2 linked regions of the Homo sapiens genome follow. The protein of the gene in region 1 interacts with the protein of each later gene in a pairwise test. Each region holds a gene or a part of one and is shown on either strand. Other genes may lie near its edges.

What was found.
Region 2: the proteins of ANXA4 (region 1) and NMT2 interact in a two-hybrid assay, tested with the Homo sapiens proteins (one large-scale study listed by BioGRID and IntAct).

What each region holds. Positions count from the first base shown.
Region 1 is NC_000002.12:69,822,009-69,825,084, reverse strand, and holds part of ANXA4 (annexin A4), read right to left. Parts: intron 1-3,076. UniProt on the Homo sapiens protein: Calcium/phospholipid-binding protein which promotes membrane fusion and is involved in exocytosis.
Region 2 is NC_000010.11:15,109,480-15,113,316, forward strand, and holds part of NMT2 (glycylpeptide N-tetradecanoyltransferase 2), read right to left. Parts: intron 3,485-3,837; coding exon 3,317-3,484; intron 2,308-3,316; exon of another isoform or gene 2,049-2,307; intron 361-2,048; coding exon 223-360; intron 1-222.

The sequences.
Region 1 (3,076 bases):
TTTTTTTTTTTTTTTTTTGAGACAGAGTCTTGTTCTGTCACCCAGGCTGGAGTGCAGTGGCGCCATCTTGACTCACTGCAAGCTCTGCCTCCCGGGTTCACGCCATTCTTCTGCGTCAGCCTCCTGAGTAGCTGGGACTACAGGCGCCTGCCACCATGCCCGGCTAATTTTGTTTTTGTATTTTTAGTAGAAATGGGGTTTCACCATGTTAGCCAGGATGGTCTTGATCTCCTGATCTCATGATCTGCCAGCCTTGGCCTCCCAAAAAGTGCTGGGATTACAGGCGTGAGCAACCGTGCTAGGGCCCTATTTTGTTAAATATTATTCTACAACATTATTTAATGGTTACAGAATATCCCATTGTATGCAGGTAAAATAATTTATTTGATCACATCCTCCCTCTCCCTATTGTTGGATATTTACGTTGTTTCAATTTTTCACTATTATAAACACTGCTTCAATAAGCATATTGTAGTTACATTTTTGTATATTTTCTTAATGATTTATTCTGGATAAATTTTCATAAAATGGGAATTACTGGACTAAATGCATTTTCTTAAACCTTTTTTTTTTTTTTTTTCTGAGACGGAGTCTCGTTCTGTGGCCCAGGCTAGAGTGCAATGGTGCAATCCTGGCTCACTGCGACCTCCGCCTCCCAGGTTCAAGTGATTCTCCTGCCTCAGCTGCCTGCGTAGCTGGCACTACAGGTACACACCACCACGCCTGGCTAATTTTTATTTTTTTAGTAGAGACAGGGTTTCACCATGTTGGCCAGGCTGGTCTTGAAGTCCTGACCTCAAGTGATCCACTCACCTTGGCCTCCCAAAGTACTAGGATTACAGGTGTGAGCCACCGCACCCAGCCTGTTTTCTTAAACATTTTGATATGGGTTACAAAACAGTCTTCCGGAAAGGTTCTATAATTTCTGCATATAAATTTTTGTGGTCTAATAATTGATTAATTTTTTAATCTTTAATTTTATTTATTTATTTTTATTATATTTTTAGAGACAGGGTCTTGCTCTATCACCCAGGCTGGAGAACAGTGGTGTGGTCATAGCTCACTGCAGCTTCGAACTCCTGGGCTCAAGTGATCCTCCCACCTCAGCTTCCCAGAATGCTGGGATTACAGGTGTGAGCCACTGCACCTGGCCTAGATTAATTTTTATTAGTCATTCGTGGGGACTAGAAAAGATGGAATCTCTGTATATAGGGTTCAAAGTTTAATAAGTATCTGTTAAGCTCAATCTTAATATATCCTTGTTTATACTTTGCCTCATTGATGTGCCAAAGCATAGGATGTATTAAAGTCTCTCGCTAGCATACTAATTCCATTATATGTTTTCTTCTGGAGCCTCAAGTTTCTTATTTATACATTTGAATGCAATATAATTTGGTACTGAAAGTTTCATAACAGTTTAATCTTTGCTGTGAATTGTTGCCTTTGTCAGTATAACGTGATCCACTTTCTCCTATTTAATACTTTTTCTCCCTAAATTCTTCTTTTTATTAATAGCATAATCTCCGCTTTCTTTCTTGTATGTCCGCTTTCTTTCTTTCCCTGGTGTTTTTCTTTAAGCTTTTTACATGTCACTGTATTTTAGTTGTTTCTTATAAACAGCATGAAGTTGGATTTTATATTTTTACCTAACCTGAGAGTTTATTTATTTTTATAACTTTTATTTTTATCTTTTGTCATTTTTTTCTATTATTTACATATTTTATGCTTCTATTCTGCTTTTTTCATTTCTTTTGACAACTATTATTGAATGAGTAATGTATTCTTTATTTTTAATCTTTTCTAGTGGTGTGTGTGTGTATACACACATATATTTACATATTTATATATACAGACATATATACACTAGATTATAGTGTTTTCTTCCCAAGCCAATCAATATATTTGTACTCAATCATTTTAGTGTTGGTATAGTATTATATTGTATGGATTTTCCATAATTTGTTATTCCCTATTGATTAATAGTAATAACAATATATAATAAATTATATACTATAATACCATATTATTGATATAAATATAAATAACATAAAGCCATGTAAATAATATAAATAATGCTATGATGAAGTATTATACTTCATCTATTCTTTTCACATTTCATTAAACAATTTTATTCAAATTCAGAGACTTTTTCTTGTGGTAAAAAAATATATATATATAATTTGTCATTTTAACCATTTTCAAGTGGCACTAGTTACTTTTACAATGTTATGTAACCATCATCACTGTCTATTTCTAAAACCCTTTCATCACCCCAAACAGAAACTCTGTACCCACTAACCAATAACTCCCATTCTTTCCTCTCCCTCCAAATTGCTGGTAACCTCTAATCTACTTTCTGTCCCTATGAATCTACCTATTCTACATATTTCATAAAGCAGAATCATACAATATTTGTCCGTTTGTGTCTGATTTATTGCACGTAGTATATTTTCAAGGTTCATTCACGTATCAAAAATGTCATTCCTTTTTTTCATGACAGCGTACCATTGAATATCATTGCTTTTTATGTATGTATATACATTTTGTTTATCCAGTCATCTGTTGATGGATATTTAGGTTGTTTCCACCTTGTGCCTATTGTTAATAATGTTTATGTTGATGTACAACTAGCTGTTTGGGTTCCTGTTTTCATTTAAGTATATAACTGAGAGTGGAATTGCTGGCTCATATGGTCATTCTATGTTAAAATTTTTTCTTTTTCTTTTTTGGGATGGGTCTTTACTCAGGCTGGAGTCTTGAAGTGGTACAGTCATGGCTCACTGCAGCCTCGACCTCCCCAGCCTCAGGTGATCATCCCACCTCAGCCTCCTGAGTAGCTGGGACTACAGGCGTGCACCACCACACCCGGCTAATTTTTGTTGATTTTGTAGAGACAGGGTCTCACTATGTTGGCTAGGCTGGTCTCGAACTCCCGGGCTCAAGTGATCCACCTGTCTCGGCCTCCCAAAGTGCTGGGATTACAGGCATGAGCCACGATGCCTGGTCTATATTAAACTTTTTGAAGAAGTTTGGTGCTTAAAGTTTCGTAACAGACTGTTTTTCACAGTGGCTGCAC
Region 2 (3,837 bases), on another chromosome or scaffold:
AGAATCACTTGAACCTGGGAGGCGGAGGTTGCAGTGAGCTGAGATCATGCCATTGCACTCCAGCCTGGGGGACAGAGCGAGACTTCATCTCAAAAAAATAAATAAATAAATAAATAAAATGAACAAAAATAAAATAAAGCTGTCTTAAGTCTAAGTGAAGCAAGTATGAAATTGTCTAGGTACATTTGTTGAGTTTACAAGGGCTATATCCATTTCACTTACCTTTTCAGAATCTGTACCTGGACACCTCCAATTGTACAGGTAATACTGCAAATTGCCATCTCCTATACCAAACTTGAGTTTTTCCAAGAATGTCTTATTTTCCATCAAATCCAGTGCATTGAATACATCAAATCCTTTCTGCCAATTTAAAAAAGATTTAAAATTTAAAACAAAGGACTAGTGTTTTCTGTATTACATATCTCAGTTTAACAATTCTACTAATAGCTCGAATATGCATTTCTAATAGGATTTAACGTCCGTGATATATAGCATAGGTTAAGAATTCAGGGCCGGATGCTGTGGCTCATGCCTATAATCCCAGCACTTTGGTAGGCTGAGGTGGGTGGATCACTTGAGGTCAGGAGTTCGAGACCAGCCTGACCAACATGGCGAAACCCCATCTCTACTAAAAATAACAAAAATAAGCCAGATGTGGTGGCGCACACCTGCAGTCCCAGCTACTCAGGAGGCTGAGGCAGGAGAACTGCTTGAGCCTGGGAGGTAGAGGTGGCAGTGAGCCGAGATTGTGCCACGGCACTCCAGCCTGAGCGACAGAGTGAGACTTTTTTTTTTTCTTTCTTTAAAAAGAGGAAGAATTCAGTTGAAAATTGTCTTATAAAACTAGCAGTGTGGCTGGATGTGGTGGCTCACGCCTGTAATCCCAGCACTTTGGGAGGCCAAGGTGGGAGGCTCACTGGAGCCCAGGAATTTGAAACCAGCCTGGGCATAGGCTGTAGGTATAGGTGTAGGTGTAGGTACAGGACATTGTCTCTACAAAAATAAAAAGATTGACTCGGCATGGTGGTGTGTGCCTGTGGACCCAGCTACACAGGAGGCTGAGGCAGGATTGCATAAGCCGAAGAGGTCGAGGCTGCAGTGAGCTGTGATTGTGCCAGTGCACTTAAACCTGAGCAACAGAGTGAGCGCCTGTCTCAAAAAACAAACAAACTATAGTGAATCCAATGAAGTCAGCATGAAAATTCAGAAACGCTGAATCCCAAAAATGTTAAAAATGTAGTATGATGGCTGTCACTGGCATAAAATTACTTATGAAGATTTCAGAAAATATTTTATTTATGTTTTATTTATTTATTTTTAAATTTTTTTGAGATGGAGTCTCACTCTGTCATCCAGGCTGGAATACAGTGGCATGATGTCGGCTCACTGCAACCTCCACCTCCCAGATTTAAGCAATTCTCCTGCCTCAAACTTCCTAGTAGCTGGCATTACAGGTGTGCACCTCCATGCCCAGCTAATTTCTTTGTATTTTTAGTAGAGACCGGGTTTCACCGTGTTGGCCAGGCTGGTCTTGAACTCCGACCTCAAGTGATCCACCTGCCTTGGCCTTCCAAAGTGCTGGGATTACAGGCATGAGCCACTGCACCCAGCCTCGTTCTTGTTTTAGAAGGGAACAGTTGTCAAGATGGTTTCATCTCCAGGATTATTAATTATTAGCCTTTCTAAGTCCTACCTTGGCTGAAGCTATTGCCCAGGGACCAAAGTTGTAAAGACTTTAAATAGTATGCAGGCCGGGCGTGGTGGCTCACGCCTGTAATCCCCGCACTTTGGGAGGCCGCAGCAGGTGGATCACCTGAGGTCAGGAGTTCGAGACCAGCCGGGTCAATATGATGAAACCCTGTCTCTACTAAAAATACAAAAATTAGCCAGGTGTGGTGGCACACACCTATAGTCCCAGCTACTCTGGAGGCTGAGACAAGAGAATCACTTGAACATGGGAAGCAGAGGTTGCAGTGAGCCGAGACTGTGCCACTGCACTCCAGCCTGGGTAACACAGCAAGACTCATCTCAAAAAAAAAAAAAAAAAAAAAAGTATAAAAAAATAGTATGTTTGCTTTGGGCTGATAATGGGAAATATATTTATGTAAAATTTTAATGGTAAAAAATTAAATTTCTTTAAAATGTCAGACAATAATACTATGCAAAATGTGATATAGAAGAAGCACTTTTTATTTTTATTTCTCAGGGTTTTTACCTTAAATAACTAATTACTGGCCATATTTGGGAAGTGTTGAAAAAAAGCAGACAATCTGAGGATGATGTTGACTTGGGGATCCAAAGGCACAGGTAAGAGATTTTTATTTTATTTTATTTTAATTAATTAATTAATTTGAGACAGGGTCTCACTCTGTGGCCCAGGCTGGAATGCAATGGTGCAATCTCGGCTCACTGCAACCGCCAACTCCCAGGTTCAAGTAATCCTCTTGCCTCAGCCTCCCGAGTAGCTGGGATTACAGGTGTGTGCTATCACACCCTGCTAATTTTTGTATTTTTAGTAGAGACAGGGTTTCACCATGTAGACTGGCTACAATTAAATTTTGAATTTCATTCCTTTAATTTTAAAATTCAGAGACTATTTGGTTGAATAAAAAAATTGCTGCTAGTTATTCACTCAACAAAAATATTCACTCATGTATTAATATTTTCCTTATATTACTTCCTAAGATATGGGCTTTATATATATATATATATATATATATATATATATATATATATATTTTTTTTTTTTTTTTTTTTTTTTTTTTTTTTTTTGAGACAGTTTCTGTCACCCAGGCTGGAGTGCAGTGGTGCAATCTCAGCTCCATTGCAACCTCTGCCTCCCAGGTTCAAGCAATTCTCCTGCCTCAGCCTCCCGAGTAGCTGGGATTACAGGCACACACCACGAAGCCTGGCTAACTTTTGTATTTTTAGTAGAGACGAGGTTTCACCATATTAACCAGGCTGGTCTTAAACTCCTAACCTCAGGTGATCCACCCATCTCGGCCTCCCAAAGTGTTGGGATTACAAGCCTGAGCCACCATGCCCAGCCTTATATATTCTTATATAAGGATTAAACATTTATAATTTGTACATTTTGTCTTTTTTGTTAAACTGCCATAAAATTAATGATGAAAATAGCCTCTAAAGTTTCAAAAGAAACTCTTATCAAAATTCTTCCTTTGACTGATGATCAATAGTTTTTTTAAAGTCTCGCATAAATTCCACCTGTGTGGAAGAAAACACAGTAAGATGTCTTCTATAGTTTGGCACAGACATTTGGAGAACCAAACGGCGTGAACAGGAAGGAGTGGCTTACCGATTTAGCCAGGATGAGCGCGTCGCTCATGAGGTCCAGCAGGGGCGTCTCTGTGTGGATGTTGTAGAATGAGTAGGCGGCTTTGAGGCTCTTGTGAGCAGGGTGGTGCATCACCGTGGAGGGGAGCGTATAGAAGCTCAGGAAATCAGTCAGTTTACCGTTGGGGCTCTAGGAGCAAAAGTGCTGTCAGACAGAGATCTCCTTGAACCAACTGCATACGTGCATTTCCACTAACTCTGTTCTCTCCCTTGCCCCAGAGAACGAAAAGCAGTAAGTCACACTTCTTTCTCGGCAGTCCAATTTGGGGCCCCTTATATTGTGCTGTGTAGAGGCCAAGAAGGGCCTGGAGTTGGGACTTCAGCCTAAGTGCCCATTGGTGATTTGCACAAAGTTCTTAGGAAGCAGAATGTCATGCCTGTAATCCCAGCACTTTGGGAGGATGAGGCGTGTGGATCATGAGGTCAGGAGTTCGAGACCAGCCTGACCAACATGGTGAAACCCCATCTCTACTAAAGATATGA